3 linked regions of the Homo sapiens genome follow. The protein of the gene in region 3 interacts with the protein of the main gene of each other region in a biochemical or structural test. Each region holds a gene or a part of one and is shown on either strand. Other genes may lie near its edges. The genes, in order: RNF13, HDAC9 and TRIM29.

What was found.
Region 1: the proteins of TRIM29 (region 3) and RNF13 form a complex in vitro, tested with the Homo sapiens proteins (one study listed by BioGRID).
Region 2: of the proteins of TRIM29 (region 3) and HDAC9, one has a biochemical effect on the other in vitro, tested with the Homo sapiens proteins (one study listed by BioGRID).

The regions. Positions count from the first base shown.
Region 1 is NC_000003.12:149,844,103-149,851,214, forward strand, and holds part of RNF13 (E3 ubiquitin-protein ligase RNF13 isoform 1 precursor), read left to right. Parts: intron 1-1,908; 5' UTR 1,909-1,924; coding exon 1,925-2,038; intron 2,039-7,112. UniProt on the Homo sapiens protein: E3 ubiquitin-protein ligase that regulates cell proliferation. Involved in apoptosis regulation. Mediates ER stress-induced activation of JNK signaling pathway and apoptosis by promoting ERN1 activation and splicing of XBP1 mRNA.
Region 2 is NC_000007.14:18,995,664-19,002,775, forward strand, and holds the end of HDAC9 (histone deacetylase 9), read left to right. Parts: intron 1-359; coding exon 360-399; 3' UTR 400-6,753; downstream 6,754-7,112. UniProt on the Homo sapiens protein: Responsible for the deacetylation of lysine residues on the N-terminal part of the core histones (H2A, H2B, H3 and H4).
Region 3 is NC_000011.10:120,135,068-120,142,302, reverse strand, and holds the start of TRIM29 (tripartite motif-containing protein 29), read left to right. Parts: upstream 1-4,189; 5' UTR 4,190-4,271; coding exon 4,272-5,075; intron 5,076-7,235.

The sequences.
Region 1 (7,112 bases), on a different chromosome or scaffold from region 3:
CTAAAATTTAATAACAACTATACCTTATTTTGTAAATATTTGTGTGCTTTTATGGTATGATTTCTAACCAGAAATTGTCCACATTCAGTGATTCACTAGGAGCATTTACAAGACTCAGCACATGGTTGTACTTATGGCTGTGATTTATTACAGCAAAAGGATACAAAACAAAATCAGTGAGAAGAAAAGGCACATGGGGTAAAGTCCAGAGTAAATCAGTGTAAGCGTCTAAGGGTCCTTTCCCAGTGGAGTTACATGGGATGCGTCTAATTCCTCAAGCAAGTTGTGACAACACATGTAAAATGTTTACCAGGGAAGCTCATTAGAGACTCAGTGCCCAGGGTTTATATTAGGGGTTGTTAATATAGACACTCTCTGTCTAGCATGCACCAAAATTCTAGATCCTAGAAGGAAAACAGGTATTCAGCACAAACCACATTTTTTGTAAAGTGTAGGCACACTGAGCTGTTCTTACTAGGAAATAGTGGGAACTGTCCTGAAATCTAAATTTCCAGATGCCAGCGAGGGGCCAACCTTGCAAGCAGACCTTTCTAGGGATAGCAATCTCAGGCCTGCTGTGTTAACTCTTTTCTGTACCATGGTATGTTATGAAATGTATTTTACTTAAGAAACGAATGTCAACAAATCTAGACATTTAAAAAAAGCTTTATTGAGATACAATTCTCACATTATAAAATTCAACCAATTAAAGTGTACAATGCAGTGATTTTTAGTATATTTATAGAGTTGTGCAACCATCACCAGAGTCTAATTTTAGAACATTTTCACCATCTCCCCTCCAAAACCCTTACTCATTAGCAGTCATTTCTCATTCCCACCTTTCCCCTCCCTCAAGCTTTCCCCCCACGCCCTGCCAATCCCTAGGCAACCACTAATTTACTTTTTGTCGTTAAGGAACAAATCTATACTTTAGCATGTTTTCATTTTTATTTCATCTCTGATATTAGTGGCTTTGTAAATGGTACCTTAAAAATTATTCACAGGTATTTTACTTCCAGTGTGTGAGTCAGAGATTCAGAGTTTGAGTCTATATGGCAGCTTCTATATCTAGAGCACTTATCCACACTAATCATCATCAAAACGGATATTACATGAGTTTGGGATATTTAATGAAATAATTCATTATAAAAGCCCTTGTTTTTGTAATGTTCGTTCTCACTTGTTTAAGAGTATATAATACAATTGATTGAGGCTTACCAATGATAATTTTTATATTTATGGGTTGACATTTAGTCTTTTCACGGTATCTTTTTGCTAAAAGAGAGAAAGGGACTCATAGTGAACAGGATGAAGTTGGGAGAGGTAGTTATGCTGTTGCCATTCAGACGTAGAGAGGGGAAAAAAGCATAGATTGTTAGGAGGTAATGGACAAAAAGTATTCCTTTATTATAAGTGGCTGTTAATTTTTTGGCATTCTCTGATGTTGGTACAATATACAATAGCAAATGAAAAGTAAATTTACATGTGAATTTATATTGAACCAGAAGTAAAAATTTTTTAAGTTGTAGAAAATTTTCAATTTTAAAGCAAAGATGCTTGTGTGTATGTTTTTAACCATTATTTTGGTTGAAATCTAGTTTCTCTGAAATTTGGGTTAGTAAGACAAGCTGTACTATAAACTGAGCACTGTGGGAGGATGTTTGTTTTGTGATTAAAACAGAACTTTGTCATCATGAGTTACATAGGTATTGACTAAACATGGGTGTTTACCTAAATGTCCAAATCTGTGTAAGTTCTTATGCTTTTGAAATAAAAGCTTTACTTTTAATGTTAATACATGTTTATAATTAAAAGGGATATTTTTGGACATTGGGAATTAATATATCAAATGATCTATTCCCTGGGACAAAGCACCAGCTCTCAGTTACTCACATCCTTGTCTTCCAGGTGATTTTACAACGAGATGCTGCTCTCCATAGGGATGCTCATGCTGTCAGCCACACAAGTCTACACCATCTTGACTGTCCAGCTCTTTGCATTCTTAAACCTACTGCCTGTAGAAGCAGACATTTTAGCAGTAAGTACAGTAAAATTTATTCATGTCTAGAAACATCCCTTAAAGAAAAGCTTAAAAAAAGCCTGGAATGATATTTATAAGACATTGTTATAAGACATTTTTATCTAAAAACATACCCCAACACATATACACAGTTACTTGACATTGAGGTACCTTATTCATTTGTTTATTTATTTTTTGAGACGGAATTTCATTCTCGTTGCCCAGGCTGGAGTACATTGTTGCGGTCCTGGCTCACTGAAACCTCCACCTCCCGGGTTCAAGCAGTTCTCCTGACTCACCCTCCTGAGTAGCTGGAATTACAGGCGTGTGCCACCATGCCCGACTAATTTTTTTGTATTTTTAATAGAGACAGGGTTTCACCATGTTGGCCAGGCTGGTCTTGAACTCCTGAACCTAAGGTGATCTTCCCGCCTTGGCCTCCCAAAGTGTTGGGATTACAGGTGTGAGCCACCACGCCCAGCCCCTTATTCATTTTCTATTGCTTCATATCTAATGTAAGATCTCATGAACAATCAGTACCTGATAAATAATGTTGCTCATGAGGGTATGTGTGCACATGTGGGTGCTTTGCACACATACCTACCTGCTGTGTGCTTACATAGAATTTTACTGTTTTTCTTGGTACCTAGTACATCTCTTAATGACTGTAAGATCTCAGTAGTATCTCTATTGATAATAATATTTAAGAAATTCTATAAGATGTTCATAGAAAATTTCAACCCAAGATTAGCATTAATGAATCAGAAGAGAAGCACAGTGGTCCTATCTTTGATGGTGGATAGAAAAGTTTTTAGAGAAGAAGAGTGCTGCTCAAAACCTTAGCATAGCCTCTCTTAGCTACTGTCTTACTTTCCTCCACACTGGGGAGTATACAGATGGTCTCCAGCTTAAGATAAGGCTTGACTAGTGAGCTTTCGACTTTATGATGGTATGAAAGTGATATGCATTCAGTACGCACCTCAACTTATGATGAGATTATGTTCCAACAACCCCATCATAAGTTGAAAATATCATAAGTAGAATTTGACTTATGAAACATTTTTGACTTAGATATTTTCAGTTTATGATGAATTTATCCAGATGTAGCCCCATTGTAAGTTGAGGATATATATTTTCTATTTCTCTTTTTCTGTGAAGGTAGAAAAAGAACATACATGCCTATACTCTAGGTCTGTGCTAAGGATTTGGTTTTACTTTCTGGGTGCAACTGATTTGCTTAATGATATCAGGTGAGAAATAAAAGGGCAAGAATTGTTGCTGACCAAAGCTTGATGTGGTCCCCAGCTGTGCTTCTGCACATTGCAGTAATTCTGGAAGATTCTGAGATCATTGTAGCACTTGAGAGAGCCAGGCTGGTTTCCATACCACAGCTTTTGAAGGCAGAGGATGCTAGTAATCCATACGAGATTTCTAACCCCCTGTTGTCCTCTGTAGTAGGGAACTGGTTGATTAGGTTTGTTTTGGGGAATAGTCTTGGTCTTTTTGAGGTGGAATGGAAATAGAGCCTTTAAAGACTGAGTCCATTGCTATCCAAATCTCCCTTCTAAATTGGTCCCTAAAATCCTTAGAATATTCTTGGCATGACTTTTGAAATGAGTTAGAGGATTTATGGACTGATCAGGGAATAAACTTCTCCTTGTCTCCTTTCTCTCCTTTGATTTCTTCCATTTTGTGTCTCTCTTTTTCCCTCTCTGTTGTTTTTAATACTTTTTGCCTTCTTTCTTTCATTTATACCCAAGGTGGATTGCTATTCTGTGGTGGAGCTCCCTGATGGGTTAAATGATTTTCAGTGTTGTGCTCTGGGAACTTAAGCAGATATATAACCTTGATCAAATTACTCAGCTGCTATAAGTGCCACAGTTTCTTTATTTCTTCATGTAAACTGGAGTGTTGTGGTGGTGATTAAATAAGATAAACTGCTTAGAATAGTATCTGACACATAGTAAATATTTTATATATGGTTTTAATCTTCATTATAATTATCATTCTGATTATACTTCATTCAGCCCCTTGAGAAGATACAAAACTACCTGAGCTGTATTTTTTAATTTAGAGACAAAAAAAAAATGTTAGGTATGGAAGAATGGTCAATCCTTTTTGCCAGCAGTGTTCCTTGTGCTTTACACAGGTACTTGTGGAATGTATGTTGATGTCCTGTAGTGAAGGAACTGTAAGATGGGAGCTGCTTAAATCTGGTCTCTATGCTGTCCATAAGGATAGAAGGCTGACACGAATGCAAAGATGGCTGGAGGGGAGTGGCTTGTGAAAGCATATAACTGGTAAAACAGGGAACTAAAAATTGAGACAGAGGAACTGGATGTGTGACAATCATTCAAAGGAAGTGAGTTAAGAGGTAGAAAATAAGAGCACCTCCTTTTAATGCAATAAGAGCATCCCTGAAATCTGAGTTTGCAGTAATACAGATATAAATAAATTAGACATCTAGTTCCAGTCAACTAGGTTGATTCTAGTTCCATTTGCACAGGGCTTGGGGTGCTGCTTTTGAAAAATTAAGTTTTAGTTATGCTATTTGTAATGCCAGATGCCTTTGATTTTTTGGTTGGTTGGTTGGTTGTTTTGTTTTGTGTTTTTTTTGTTTTTTGTTTTTTGTTTTTGGCAGTTGAATTCAATTCACAGACAACAGTGTTTGTCCAAGTAGTTGTTGAGTTCTAAGAGGCTATGGAGATGCTACTGTAGCATCTAGTCTATAGCTGACTAGACTAGCTGACTAGTCAGACAGACCTCTAGGCCATGAGTACTTGGAAGGCAGGACTGTGTCTTACTAAACTTTATTCCTGGTGCCTGGTGTCAGTTACACAGGAATTCAATAAACGTTTGAAGTAATTAAAAGCCTTCTCTTAGAGATTTTGTACCATCACATTTTCTTTTAATAGCATCTGTTCCTTAGTACTTTTAGATTACTGTTTTTATCTCTTATCATTTTTCTTTTACCCAAAAAGAAACGTAATACTATTAATTATGTAGGTTTATACTAGAAACATGGAATTTTAGAATTGCACTTAAGAGAGAACTACATCAGTGCTGTATATTCTGAGACTCAGAGTCCACAAGTGACATGTTAGTTTTGAGTAGTGCCCATGATTTTACTGAGAAGTAACATCCATCTTATATGAGAGTCAAACAACCCATGTAGCTTGATGCCCAGTCTGCCTTTTGATTCTTTTGTCTGGATTTGTCAGAGAGAATTGGTTGCTGGGTAGTGATTATTGAGGGCCAGTGTGCTGTGTAGCAAAGAAACACCCAATGGGTGGTGGTGTGAATGGATTGGATTATATAGCATGGGTAGTCCAGGCTCCAGAAATGGATTTATAATCAGAGTTGAAATCCAGCTCTACCACTCTATTTGCATGACCTTGGGCAGATTACTTAACATTTCTTAAGTCGCAGTTAACTTTGTAAAAGTGAGAGTTTGTGAAGGACAGTGCAGGGTAGTGGGTTAAGGGCTGGAGCTCTGTGGCCAGACTGCCTCGGTTAGAATCCTGGTTCTTCTAATTTACCAGAGCTTGTTATTTTCAACATTCTGTTGTCAATCTGTAAAATGAGGATGATAGTAATAGTGGCCTACTTTGTAGAGTTGTTGTTAGGATTAAATAAATTATTACCTGTAAAGTGCTTAGCATGATGTCTGTACATAATGAGTGCTCAGTAATTGTTAGATATTTATTACTTTCTAAATTCAATTAAACCTTTTGTTAAGGAAGCTGTCAAGAAAAATAATTGGTTAAGGAAAAGACCTTTTCAAAATAAGTGGAGTCAAACTTATGTGGTAATCACTAAGAATGGGATTCTAGTGAGGAGTAACTATTTTCTACTTCAGATTTTTTTTTTTTTTTGAGATGGAGTCTTGCTGTGTTGCCCAAGCTGTTGTGCAGTGGCGCAATCTTGGCTCCCTGCAACATCTGTCTCCTGGATTCAAGCGACTCTCCTGCCTCAGCCTTGCAAGTAGCTGGGATTACAGGCATTTGACATCAGGCCTGGCTAATTTTTGTATTTTTAGTAGAGATGGGGTTTCAACATGTTGGCCTGGCTGGTCTTGAACTCCTGACCTCAGGTGATCTGCCCACCTCGGCCTCCCAAAGTGCTAGGATTACAGGTGTGAGCCACCACATCCGGCCTACTACTTCAGATTTTTAAACAGTGAACATGCTTTAATTTTATGAGCATCGCTCCCCTCCCTCCTTATACCAAAAACGTAAAGTACCTTTGTTAGTCTTGTTCACTGTAGGAACATTTTTTGTTTTAAACAATATGATTTTAAGAGACAATATGAAACAATCCTTATTTTGCTGTTAAGGAAAGACAAAGCAGTTTCAAAAAGGGTTTCATTCAGTAACAAAACTTATTCCACATCTCAGTGTTACAAGTACTGTAGTTCAAGCTAGACATTTTATTTCTATAATTTTAGCTATAATAGTGAAACTCTTAAGTAATAGGAAGAGATAAAAGAATACTTTAGTATAGTTTGTAGATTCCCCATTTCCTAATTTCAAAAGTACATTAAAAAATACTGCTTACACACATTTGTATTTTGTCCTCATTCTATTTCCATTGATCTAGATAAGTTACTTTATTTTACAGTGACATCTTTGGCTGGGATGAATTAAATGTTTTTCTCAAGTTCAACATTAACCTGATCATAGGTGAATTAAATCAATTAAATGTGTTTTAATTAAGAGATTAAACGATAGATTGTGATAATGGGTTTAAAAGCATTTTGTAACTCTGAAGTACTTTGTAAACTATGGAGTACTCTGCAAATATGAATTATTGTTGCAATGGGAAATCACGCTGAAGCAATTACCACATATACTTGATGGCCTCCAAGTACACTGCTAGGATGATTATCCCAGCAATGACAGAATGAATAGGTTTAGTGACTGCATTTAGATGCTTGAATCACACAGTTTCCTGAGCTAATTACAAGCATACAGTGAGAGGCAAAGGTATAAGATGGACATGCTAAGACACTCAAGATAGGGTTCCAGTGGGATGCAAGAACCACACTACCTGAATCCTGGGTCACTTGTTGTAGTTTGTCCAGTCTTCCTGT
Region 2 (7,112 bases), on a different chromosome or scaffold from region 3:
CTGGTTCCATAGGAAATCACTGCAGTTGCTCCTAAAATAAAATATCATAGTTAATTTTTTCAATAAATTATTGAACTGTACTAGACACCAAACATGTACATTTTGGAATCTAGAGTTATAAAATATTCTGACATGTTTTAATATAAACAGGAACATTTCCAGTGATTGCTTGGATCGAAAATGTTTTTCCCCTTGACATTTGTTTATACTTCCTAGGAAAGAAATTCTATTTATGGATAACTGAATAACACAAATAAACATCAGAGAGAGCTGAAAAATCAGCTTTGATTATGCATGAAAATCTACAATGTCATTGTGTACTCTTATGCCGTATTCTGATTGCCTGTTTATTTTTACAGAACTGCTGGTGAGCCTATGGAAGAGGAGCCAGCCTTGTGAAGTGCCAAGTCCCCCTCTGATATTTCCTGTGTGTGACATCATTGTGTATCCCCCCACCCCAGTACCCTCAGACATGTCTTGTCTGCTGCCTGGGTGGCACAGATTCAATGGAACATAAACACTGGGCACAAAATTCTGAACAGCAGCTTCACTTGTTCTTTGGATGGACTTGAAAGGGCATTAAAGATTCCTTAAACGTAACCGCTGTGATTCTAGAGTTACAGTAAACCACGATTGGAAGAAACTGCTTCCAGCATGCTTTTAATATGCTGGGTGACCCACTCCTAGACACCAAGTTTGAACTAGAAACATTCAGTACAGCACTAGATATTGTTAATTTCAGAAGCTATGACAGCCAGTGAAATTTTGGGCAAAACCTGAGACATAGTCATTCCTGACATTCTGATCAGCTTTTTTTGGGGTAATTTGTTTTTCAAACAGTCTTAACTTGTTTACAAGATTTGCTTTTAGCTATGAACGGATCGTAATTCCACCCAGAATGTAATGTTTCTTGTTTGTTTGTTTTGTTTTGTTAGGGTTTTTTTCTCAACTTTAACACACAGTTCAACTGTTCCTAGTAAAAGTTCAAGATGGAGGAACTAGCATGAGGCTTTTTTCAGTATCTCGAAGTCCAAATGCCAAAGGAACCTCACACACTGTTTGTAATGGTGCAATATTTTATATCACTTTTTTTTAAACATCCCCAACATCTTTGTGTTCTCACACACAGGCAATTTGCAATGTTGCAATTGTGTTGGAGAATGAAGTCCCCCCACCTCCCAGCCACACACACATCCTTTGTTCTCATGACAGTAGGTCTGAGCAAATGTTCCACCAAGCATTTTCAGTGTCTTTGAAAAGCACGTAACTTTTCAAAGGTGGTCTTAATTTGTTGCATATCTATCAAGGACTTATTCACTCACCTTTCCTTTTCTGCCCTCTATCAATTGATTTCTTCTTACCTTTCATCATTCATTCCTTCCTTTAGAAAAACTGAAGATTACCCATAATCTCCTCTTATTACTTGAGGGCCTTGACTATTTAGTTTATTTTGTTTACTTTACAGGTTAACACAGTTGTTTTGTCTGATTGCATTTTATTAACTGTGAAGCCGTTGAAATGAATATCACTTAAGCAACGTTGCTAAATTTCTATGTGTTTGAAATGTGTTAATGAAGGCACTGCTTATTTGTAGTCACCTTGAACTGACTTAACCTAGAAGCTGTGCCTTCTTGTGAAAAAAAAAAAAAACAAAAACAAAAAACAGCCTTTAAACAAGTTTCCTTAGTGTCAAAAGTTAAAAATAAAGGACATTTATTTCTGAGATAAAAAGTAACTTACTAAATATAAGTAGGTTATCCTCCTACCTCCTAAAATTCGATTTCAACATATAACTCAAACACCTAAACATATTGAGGTAGAATATCTCACAGTATTTAATATCTGACAATGCTTTTGAAAGAGTTGATGTTTCTTTTTATATATTTTTCTAACTCAAAGGATATATTAAAGCCATAAGTGAAGATTGTCATGCTTTTATTCAGAAATCTGAAAGAAACCTTAATTAAAACAAGGTTTTAGGGAAGGCCATGATATGAAAGATATGGAACAATATGGTTTTAGTTAGAGAGGACTCTAACCTGTAAATCAAAGATGAAAGATTTCACTCAAGTAGAATTATATAACTCCCTTTGTTATACAGTCAGACCATATTTTTCATGCATTTGGTTTTTTTAGGATTACCATTTTAATTTTAAAGACTTTTATTACATATACAAAAATGGCTCAATACTTGGTTTAACTTCTTAGAAATTTGAGACACCCTTTGAAATAGGAAATCTGAAATGGAATGTAACTTAGTATTAGGTAAAAATTGCTTTCATTGCGTAAGGGCAAATTCAGTCTAGATTCATAGTAGTAATCAATTTTTTATAAATTTTATTTTCATGAGAAATTCATACCAATCATATTTGCTAGCTTATGTTATTTTGCAGTGATTGCTTGAGGATATTTACTTAAAAAAATAGTAGAGCCAAAGGCTTAACAAAAGACTCTCCCCCATTTTAAAAAGGAAACTCATGTTTTAATTAGAAAAATAATTGTGTAGTTTTAAAATCAACTTCATAATTATAAATCTCTGTCATTACTTTTTAGTCCTCCCAGATATTTTTTTAGTTGTTGAATAAGAAAATAAAACAGTGTAATGCAAACATGCTAATTTACTAAAGTTTCCTACAACAGTTTAGCCACATGTTTATGCCAAGCCATTAATCTGATAAAGCCAAATCACTAGGACATCTCCATGGTTATTTAGATTTAAAACTTGACACATTAATGAGTTAATCACACATACTCCCATATGACACCATACCCAATTGGTTGCACTTAGAGTCTTTAAAATACCTGGAGAAGCAAATGAACTGTGGAGAGGATTATCCACAGCATGTAGTTGTAAGAACAGAATGCCATTGCTTTTTGATTATACCATTACAAGATGGAGCATAGCCCTGAGGGACAGAATGGAGGCTTTCCGAAAATATCAACACTTCTTTTGAAATAGACCAGCACTTTTTGAAAGGGTAGTTTCACTTGGTATAGTTTTTCTTCACTTACCCGTTTAAATTTTATTGCTCGCAGTTGTTCTGAATGAGAGGCTAGAAGAGTATTATCAATTTTGCATCTCCTTGTGATACTTACTTTGAAGGAAAATCACATACGCTCTCTCATGGTCTCATGGTATCTCATACAGGGTGAATAAAAATGATTTTTGATAAATCTACTAGTAAATAATACTAGGAATTTAATAAGCTGTCAAACGTAGGTATAAAAAGAAGGCTTAAAAATTAATTTTCCCAATTGTATAATTTGGGGCTGTATATTAAACTAAAAAACACAGACAGTTTTATTAAATAGTAACCAAAATGGACTCAAATAAAACCAGAGGCTATGTTACCATTGCTTAGTAAATGGAAAGAACATTGTGAGATGAACTATCTTTAAATATTGTAACAAGTTTATAACATCAATAGTGGAGACAGAAGTCAGCTTTGGAGAAAATAGAGATATTTATGAAAAAACTACTACAAATCACATTTCCATTACCAATCCTGGGGATGGAAATATTGCCTTCAGTTTTTACTCCAGCCCTATACGACACTCTCACTAACCTTTCACTGACAACATCATGGCCTTGAAAGCAGGGATCTCCTCCCACAAAGGCTTCAGAAATTACAGGACTGGTCTCTCTTAATAGTTTAGTCCTGCTTTATTTCCAAAGGGCAATTATAAAGCCTCGTGGATTTACTGGGTTTCTTTACAGACTCCATATGGAAGTAAAATAGAATGATCATTTGGAAAGTCTCCTGGGAAAAAATTCCTCTTCAATCAGCATTTTAAAACTTTTTTATTTTTGAGTCAGAGTTTTGCTCTTGGTGCCCAGGCTGGAGTGCAATGGCGCAATCTCGACTCACTGCAACCTCCGCCTCCCGGGTTCAAGCAATTCTCCTGACGAGTAGCTGGGCATGCGCCACCACGTCTGGCTAATTTTTGTATTTTTAGTAGAGACGGGGTTTCTCCATGTTGGTCAGGCTGGTCTCAAACTCCCGACCTCAGGTGATCCGCCCGCCTCGGCCTCCCAAAGTGCTGAAATTACAGGTGTGAGCCACTGCACCCGGCCAAACTTATTGTTTTAATCCCAGCATTTATGTTTAGAAGAATTAATTTAAATATTTCTTACTATTTCTCTGTCGAATGTTTACTCTCATCTTATCTCAATGAAAGAAGTATTAAAAGTCTTATGGCCCCAAAAGAAACAAGCCAAACTGTACTGTCTTAAAAGTGATTCATTCTGAGCTTGAAACGACTCTGTCAGTGTTTGACATTGTCATTTCTAGTGGCATGTATCTTAACATTCTTTTCCTGCTTCAGGAATGAAATCACTTGTCCTGCTGAGAAAATAAGGGGAAAACAAGATAGAAGTAAAAAACAACACACCTGTTGAACTATTTTCATAAAGATGGCGTTTTCACTTTCAAAAGAAATGAAAACCAGATGGTCTATGCTAAGAAGTGAAGGCATTTTGTTGTCTTCAGAACTGATCAACATGGTCATGATCATCATCAAATTTCTTGTTTCCAAAGGCCACTATTGTAGTACAGTCTCCAGCAGGATTTTGTACCATGTGCTGCCTTTGGAATAAAGTATTATAATGTATCTTGTCACCTTCATCAACACCACCATTAAATATGTAAGTTCCTATATGTGACTTTTTCTGGGCATATTTGCATCAAAAATCACAGTCCTTGCCTCCTTGCTTGCTTTTACTCCATGAAACGCTTCATGAAGCAGAGCATGATTGTCAAGTGACCAGAGGATGACATTTGTAAGTGAACGTGGTATACTCACACATGCTATACTCATACTACATAACTTAGTTTCTCCAAATCAACTGCAGTCCGTTTTATCTATGATATTCCTGGCTTCGTATAATGGTTTTGTAAAATACATTAAATACAATTAAGTCCGTTATTACTATGCTGGAAATAACTAGGTCAGACAATGAAACCTTAGACTTTTGATTGGGGCTGTTTGGACTTGATCCAATGATAAGGTAATAAGGTTGTTGCAATTTCTCAAAGCATCTTAATTCTCAAACTGAAACATTTAGCAAATACATGGTGAATCTGGTGTAAACTTACAATCTAACAAATAATTTTCTTTCAACTCTTCTCTTTTTCTGCCTAACAATCTATACGAAATTGCCAATATCTAAGCAATCAAAAGTTTCTGAAATCTCTGTTTCCTTAGTAGAAATGACCTTGACAACTTATTTTCTGAGATACCACTAGGCCTACTGTCTTTCATGCCATTTTATATAAACATTTTGATAGATACTCTGTCTTTTGTTTTTTATCTCTTCTCTTTTCAAGAGTCACTTGACTTTTTCAAATATTCTTAAAAGATAGATTTAGTTATTGTATTTTGGTCTACAATTTTGGACTTGGCAGTTTGTTTTACTAATGCAGAATTATTCTTTTTGTTTCAAACATAGTTTGCCATCATCTGGCTACTACCTAATCATGTTGTACTAGTTATTGTGGAAAGAAAATTGTACATACATTTCCTTGTCCTTTGGGAGATGTCTTTGAGTCAAACCCACAAGCATGAACTCTCACCTGAAAGAAAACTGGAAAAGGAGAAACTTTAAATCAGTATGTTTTGAAAGGAAGAGATTTCCAGACTTTTTAAAGCAAATTGGAATCGTTTTATTTTTTTGTTTGGGCCTTAGGCACAATAGAAGCAAATGTTGCAATATTAAATATAATAGGGAGAGTTCACTGTTTCCTGGGACATTGTGGTCATGTCCTTAATCCTTCATTGTGATGCCCCTTCTTGGAGTTGGCATTTTGTGACAATTCATAGAGATCTTGCAGCAATATTTGGCTATTGGTTTTATTAACTTAAAATTCAACAGAAATGGAGTAATTAAAAAAAAAAACAAAAAACAGAGAAGAATTGCAAAATCTGAAGTGGAATGGCACTTCCTTGGGTATGTAAGGGTTGTTTTTAGATAAAACTCCCGATTTGTTCTTCCTACACTTTAATAGTCTCAAATTCTTTCTGGGGAAGCAACGTCAGTGTCTACCTCCACAGTAACTATGATATAGGAAATTGTCCTTTCAGTGGTTTCTAGGTATAACAAACAAGCCGTTAAAAATGAGTGACCATTTTGTAGGTTACAGCCTCAGCAATCTGTGTCATTTGAAAGCAAATATCCTGATATTTTTAAATAAGGTGAGCAGGGCAGGCAGGAAACCAATATTTAGTACTTTTGTGATTAAACATTCTAGACCAGGCTTGTTGATATGTATGCCAATAGCCTAGAATTTTTGGCTTAGTGTAAAATAAAAATGTCTTTTCTATTGTGGTCTGATATCCGTTTCTGTAATAAGATCAGTTTGTTGTCCTCTGTGCACCAGTGGTTTTGCCCTTAATTTTTTTTGGCTAGCATCACCAAGATCTGTCATCCAGAGCTGCTGAGAAAAATACATGTTGCCAAACTTTTCTTAAAATTGTGCTGCCAGTGGTATTTTCCCAGATGTGAAAAATAATAATCTAATAAAGGATTAATATCTAATAACAATACCATTGTTGAACATGCTCATGGAATGTCCACCTTCTTCTGATTCCTTTTTTGTATTTGAAAATGCAATGGTGTGTTCCAAATTATTGTTGGTGTTGTTAATGTCATGACTCTCCTTTGAATAGAATAAAATAACCCCTTTTGTTTTGTGTTTTCTACTGAATTAGATTTTCCTCTAGTCCTATGTGAATAAAAAGCTATTTGAAATAAAAGTGTTCTTATTTTTCTATGTCCTTGGTGCCTACCATTAGACTCTGGATAGCAGATATTTGACGAATATTTGTTGGATAAATACAATATTATGAAATATGAATTACCACAAAATGTACTATTCCATTTTCAAAAAAAAAGATTTACTTGTGAGTAAATCTCCCTTAAAATAATGTGAAAATTCACAAAAGAAGAAGTAAATTAAAACACAGTTGCTATTTGATTGTAGCTTGATGGTTAGAATAAAGAACAATAATAACTACCACTGATTAAGTACCTTCCATGTGCCTGTCACTCTGCTGAACACTGTACCTGAATGATATTTAACCATCACACGAACCCTGCCTCATAGGTGTTATTA
Region 3 (7,235 bases):
ATCAGGTGTTCCCAGGCCACACAGTAGGTAAGTGAAGGTGGCTCCACCTGCTGAATCAAGGGAGGCTGCCAGGAAGGGAACAGCTTTGAGGTGCCTCATGGGAGAAGCCTGGGAGGAGGCTTGGGGTTGGCCCACGGGTGCGTGTGGGAGGAGGGACTCTGTGGGGGCTTTCAGGCATGCCTGGTCTGACAGGGCCAAGCAGGAAGAGGTAGAAGTTGCCTCTGCTCCATAGGAATCCTTCTCTGGAAGCCACACCTGCCAGCTCTTCTTACCTTCTAAAGCTTGCAAGGGATGAGGCAGGGGCTGGCAGCCAGTCACATCTCACCACCACCTGGTATAGGGAGAAACATTGCAGCAGGAAGACTTTAAGCTAGACCAGAGGGAGAACAGGGTGAGATGTGGGAGGAGTGACTGGGGTGGGGGACTTCACGGGCTCCCTTTCTTTCAAGGCCTTTAAAAGTGAAGAGGCCTCTCTGCCACAGCAGTGCAGATGATGGTCTTCGGGGGCTTTTTGCCAAGTTGCACAGGACACATAGGCTCTGAGGGCCATTAGGAAATGCCCTTTATGGAACCTGTGCAACTGAGTTTGAGGCTGGAGAGGGGCAGGACCTCAGCAGACGCGGTTGCCTGTAGTCAGGTCCTGAGTGAGGGCCTGGGGAGCTTGGGGAGCGATCACCTTCCTATGAGGTGTGCAGTGCCCATCCAGACCTCAGACCTCCAGGGGTGGGAATCCTCTTCTTTGGTTCAGCTCCAGGAGGGATGTTGGGGTGGTGGGACGAGGGCTTGGGGACCAGCCCTGAAGGGACAATTGTTTGCTTCTTTTCAGCTCTTGGCTTCTGGGATCTCCAGGAGACTCTACCTTCTGCTAGGCATTTGGGTAGAGCAGTCCCTCAAGGGAAGAGGGGCCCTGCACCCTGGCCTAGGAGAACCAAAAGACCAGTCAACCAGCACCCACTGAGAATTCAGCTGAATAAATATCTGCTGAGTCAAGTCAAACACTGTCTCTGTGTAGCCAGGGAGGCCACTTATGTGCATGGAAAGCGAGCCATGCTCATCCTGGTTGGAGAGACCAGCCTCTCTCAGCACATGCTGGTTCCTCCCTCCTCTGAGCAGCCCAAGCCCCTCACACACATTTATCTCATTCACTGTTCATGCCAAATCCAAGTGATTTGCTTACTGATCTCTCCTCCCACTAAACTATGAACTCCCCAAGGGCATGATCTGGGACTCCTTCCTGTCCGTATGATCAGTCCCTTGCCTAACCCTGGCCCATGGTAGGATGCTCAACAAGTATGTGTGAATGAATGAATAATTAACAACACCAGGTGGGCTGAGCTAAATGCTTCCCGAGTAGGACAGGCAGGGATAGATGTTACAGGGGTTGAATGGGGGCAGTGGTCACTGGGCTTGGGTTAGGGAAAGCCTCTTGGAAGAGAGAAATTTGCCTCATCTTCCCTTTGCCTTGAATCACTTGAACCTGTTCCCCTGACATCCTCCAGCATCCATCTTTCTATCCTCCCTCTTATGTCTTCCACTTTGATCATGCACTAGTCCTCCAGCGATGCGTTGGAGCAGGCTCACTGGCTTGGGAGAGCTGACTGTGTGCATCTCTTTCCAGTGCTCTTCACATTGGTAGCTTGAGACTGACTAGGGTGAAATTTTCAAATGCTACAAACCAGTGCTTTTGTGCCTGGAAGAGTCCGTTGCTAAACTTTTATCAGCATACCTTGCAATCCACTCACTCACCTACTTACTGCCTATCTGTCTCCTTCCTTCCTTACTCTTCCCTTCTCTTTCCTCTCTCCTTCCCATGTATCACCCTTTCTTTCTCTCTTCTTCCATTCTTTTAAAAATTCTTTTACCCATTTCTTCAACTATCTGTCCATCCATCCATCCACCCATTTCCTTATTCATATTCATCTAGTTTTTACTTATTTCATTTACCCATCCATCTACCCATCCATCCATTCATCCATTTGTTCATCATCCAACCACCCACTTATCCATTATCTACACATCTTATCCATCTGTTCATTTATTTCCCAATTCACATTCATCTAGCTTTAACTTCTTCCATGCATTCATCCATCCATCCATCCATCCATCCATCCATCCATCCATCCGTCTGTCCATCCACCCACCCACAAATATTCTCTGAACATTTACTCTGTGTCAGCCTATTCCTAAGGTTCAGAATCTTTCCCCAGATTTCTGGAAGATGGGTGCATGAACTGTAAGAACTAGCGGAGGCCCTCCAGGGTGCCCCAGGCTCATCCAGCATTGATGTTGGACTGTAGCCAGAACCCAATGACTTTCCTCTTCTGTTTCTTTGTGTCCTCTCTGTTCTTTTCTCCTCACCGCCTGTTCTCTCCAGGTTAGGGAAATATTATTAGGGAAAGGGGAGGGGCATGTCCCAATCCAGCAGGCCAGGACAGGACTTCCTTCTCTCCTTCTCCCTCCGTACCTCAGGCAAGAGCCCAGAGAAATTGGGCCTGGCATTTTGAGTAAGTGTCCCCCTCCCCAGAAGGCCCAACAAGCTCTTAGCCAATTCACCAGTGAGTTCAAACAAGAGGGGGCTCCTTTGGGGCCCACAGACAGAGACCTCAGGCAAGAGGAGAATCCCCGTCATGAAGCCAGCACTCCCCACGCCAACACCACCTCACATACATCCTCTCATAAGTGAACTGCTTTGTGAGGTGGGCTTGTCTCTGCCCTTGTTCCCAGGGGCTGTTTTTGCAAAGGATTAGCTGCTCAGCCTGGTGAGGCAAAGGGGCGGGGGCTTCCTAGCTTGACATGGATTGGAGGGGAAGGAAGGGAAACCCATTCCCCTCCACACAGCCCAGAACCTGCCACGCCAGCCTCACCTACTGTCTGCTCTGCCCTGCCCAGCCTGGCCTTGGAGAGGCACGGCCCTTTCCTTAGGGGTTTGGAGGCTTCCTAGGACCAGGTCAATGGGTCAGAGCCCAGAAGTGGCTGGGGGGCATGTCCTACAAGAGCTAAGGGTCCTGGTGTTCCGCAGGGGCCACGGAGAGGAAGGGGATGAAGTTTGTTTTTCTCACTTTTCTTCCTGAGGTCTGTATTTATATGATAGTCATATTTGAACAGGTGACTTCTGAGATTATCTGAATCTCACACTTTGCTGACCTCTTTTTGGAGGGCATTGCCTGTGGCCTGGCCCAGAGAGGATGGGCAGGTGTTTTCTGAGTCACACAGCAGACCAAGTGTGGAGACAGGTGAGAGTCAAGTGTTTGGGCCCTGAGGACCCAACCACCTGGGCTGGCATTGCTTGGATTCCCCTCATTGTTGTGCCTTGGTCATTTGAATCCACGCAGGTAGCAATAATCTAAGGTCTATATGTATCTTGTTGGGGCCATTGGGATAGGACAGACTCTCAGAAGCCATCTTCTGATGAGATATTCAGGTGACTCCATGACCACCCAGCTGAAGAAGGGACTTTGGCTTCTCAAAGGCTTAGGGTTCAAATCCCAGCTCGGCCACTTGACTTAGGCCAGTGAGTTATCTTCTTAAAGCCTGTTTTCTCATCTGTTAAAAAGGGGTAATTGAACAGGTTTTAGGGAAGCCTGAATGAGCTCGTAATATATGCAATACCTAGGAAAGTGCCTGGAGGTTGGCAAGTAGGGTTCAATACTCAGTAGCCAAATCAAATGGAACCCATCCTTCCCCCTTAAGGTGAAAAGCAGCGATACAGTCCCAGGGTGGACAATCTTTCCTCTGAAACTCAGGCCTGCAAATTACAAGGCTATTTGGCTTGTGTGACCCAGTTAACAGCCCTGTGTCTGGTAGGCCTCTGCAGACACCTCACCTTCTGCCCCAGGGGCCTCTGGGCTCAGTGAAGCCTGCCCACTTGTGAAGACGGAGACTCCCCGCTCCCCGGATGAGAAGCAAGTGCGTCAGAGGGAAGCAGCCCAACTGGTTGCTGAGTTGTGGAAAATAAGCTGGGGGAGAAAAAACACTTCTTTTAAAAATCAGGTTAGGGATGAATGTGCAGGGCGTGGTTCCTGTGCAATTATCTGCTCTGCTGGCTGCGGGGCTCCCTGCTTCTCCCGGGCCGCTGTGTCAGGCTTGTGCCTGTTGCTCCTCCCCTCCACTCCTCCCCCTCCTCCTCCTCCGCCTCCTCCCCCTCCTCCTCCTCACAGGTGTGTCTCTAGTCCTCGTGGTTGCCTGCCCCACTCCCTGCCGAGACGCCTGCCAGAAAGGTCACCTATCCTGAACCCCAGCAAGCCTGAAACAGCTCAGCCAAGCACCCTGCGATGGAAGCTGCAGATGCCTCCAGGAGCAACGGGTCGAGCCCAGAAGCCAGGGATGCCCGGAGCCCGTCGGGCCCCAGTGGCAGCCTGGAGAATGGCACCAAGGCTGACGGCAAGGATGCCAAGACCACCAACGGGCACGGCGGGGAGGCAGCTGAGGGCAAGAGCCTGGGCAGCGCCCTGAAGCCAGGGGAAGGTAGGAGCGCCCTGTTCGCGGGCAATGAGTGGCGGCGACCCATCATCCAGTTTGTCGAGTCCGGGGACGACAAGAACTCCAACTACTTCAGCATGGACTCTATGGAAGGCAAGAGGTCGCCGTACGCAGGGCTCCAGCTGGGGGCTGCCAAGAAGCCACCCGTTACCTTTGCCGAAAAGGGCGAGCTGCGCAAGTCCATTTTCTCGGAGTCCCGGAAGCCCACGGTGTCCATCATGGAGCCCGGGGAGACCCGGCGGAACAGCTACCCCCGGGCCGACACGGGCCTTTTTTCACGGTCCAAGTCCGGCTCCGAGGAGGTGCTGTGCGACTCCTGCATCGGCAACAAGCAGAAGGCGGTCAAGTCCTGCCTGGTGTGCCAGGCCTCCTTCTGCGAGCTGCATCTCAAGCCCCACCTGGAGGGCGCCGCCTTCCGAGACCACCAGCTGCTCGAGCCCATCCGGGACTTTGAGGCCCGCAAGTGTCCCGTGCATGGCAAGACGATGGAGCTCTTCTGCCAGACCGACCAGACCTGCATCTGCTACCTTTGCATGTTCCAGGAGCACAAGAATCATAGCACCGTGACAGTGGAGGAGGCCAAGGCCGAGAAGGAGGTAAGTGCTGGGGCCCCTCCTGCCCCTCCAGGCCTCTCCTCTCTCACCCCACCCCTCCGAACTTCATCTTCTCCACTCGGGCTTCCTCGGGTTTGGGGCTTAAGTTTCTACTGTCCTTGGCTCTTTTAGAAAACATTTATTTCCCCTCATGCCCCCTGTCCCCCCTAATCCCAGCTGGGGATCAGAGGTTGCTCCCCAATCCCCTAAGGTCTCAGGAGACAGGGACATTTTCTAGATGAGCGGATGGAGACTCAGAAAAGGTTGAGGGCCTGACCAAAGTCATAGGATAAATTCGAGTCAGGTTAGAGAGTATGACCCAACTGCATAGACCTCACTTCTGGGCTCTGTGCCTGGCTGAGGTGTTTCTTTCTTCTTCTTCTCCTTCTCCCTCTTCCTCTTCTTCCTCCTCTTCTTCTTCTTTTATTTTTTTTTTTTTTTGCTTTGAAGAAGAGATAATTCCTCCAACCTGAGTCGGACTGGCCCCTGGGGAATGGGTTGTGGGTGAGGAAAGATACTAGAAGGAGAGAATTTTGGGGCCCACTGAAAGGTCCTTCTTGCTGTCTTTGTAGTTTTTATTGTCGTACAGTGGCTTCTTGTTCTAGCTGATCCCCAGCTGGTCTCTTGACTTCCTCCACAGCCTCCTTTATCCTTCTCCCAGCTGGGCCCTGTGTTTTGCGTGTGTGGTTGTGTGTGGACACACATATTCCTGCAGGCGGACACCGTTGGGGAAGTTTGGAGTTTGTGTGTGGATGGCGTGTACGTGTACAGCTAGTCCCTGACTTAGGATGGTTTGATTTACAATGATGTGAAAGTGCTATGCTTTCAGTACAGTATTCCATAAAATCCAACACTTTATTACAAAATAGGCTTTGTAGTAGAAGATTTTGCCAAACTGTCGGCTAATGTAAGTGCTCTGAACAAGTTTAAGGTAAGCTAGGTTAAGCTATGATGCTTGGTAGGCTAGGTGTATTAAAAGCATTTTTGACCTATCACATTTTCAACTTACAATGGGTTTATTGGTAAATAACCCCATCACAAGTTGAGGAGCATCTGTATATGTGTTTATTTTATGTGCACGTGGGTGTTTTTGTGCCTTTGTGGATGTTTGCATGTATTCATATATGTGATACGTAAGTGTGTTTGCATGAGTTCTATGTGACTGTGCCTGTACTTCTATGGGGAGGAGCAGAGGCAAGTGCAGGCTTGTGGATGTAGCATACCTGGGGAAGGTGATTTGGGCAAAGGGCCCAGCTGTGGCCACTGCCCTTTGCCCCACAGATGTGGGGCTCACTCTTCCCTAAGGTACACAGCTTCCTGCTGTGGGTGGCCTTCCTGGGGCAAACCTTCCTGGCCTCCAAAGCAGTGAACTCCACTTTCCTGAAGAGCTTCTGCACACCTCAGATCTGGACAGCAGAGGATTCCTTCCTGCCCAGCCTTCCTGACCAGGAGGAGCTGGTTGATTACTCTTTCCCTTCATCTCTCACCCACACCCCTGGACAGAAAGGGCTGAGGTAGAGAGGGGAACAGACTCACAGATTCCTTCCAGAAGCCTCGTTTGGCCCAGGAAGAAGATGTTTCCAGCTTCCCCCATCTTCTGACCCCAGCGTGGCCTCAGGTTTCATACTGAGAGATATAGATGGGACGGGGCCATGAAACTCATTCTAGGGAGTTTACTTGGGAGGTTAGACAGAACAAGAGGCAATCATCCTCATCACAGCAGCTGAGAAATTGCAGAGCCTCAGACAAGGTTTTAGGAAATGTGACCGAGTTCCAGTCCCAGTTTTTGCCTCTAACTAACTGTAAGGCTGTGAATAAGTCCTTTCCACGCTCAGTCTCATTCTCCCAAGGGGTGAGGCTAGATTGTTGGTTTTCAAATTACCCCACAGAGCCCTGGAATTCTTAGACATGTCTTCGAGGCCTCAGGATGAGGAGGGGGTAAAGAAGTGTCAAGAAGGCGGAGCATTCAGGTTCCCACCTCGACTACAAGCAAAGGACATTCTTATTGATTATCTTCTATGTGGGTTTGGCCTCAAATTTGGTCTCAACCAAGGATATCTCTGCTTAAGCCTGGGCACCCCTGGAAGATGTGGTTCTGGTGGGCAGGAGGGTCTTGGGCAGCCCTATGTGGATGTGCCAGGAGCTCAGAGTTCAGAGTTCGGG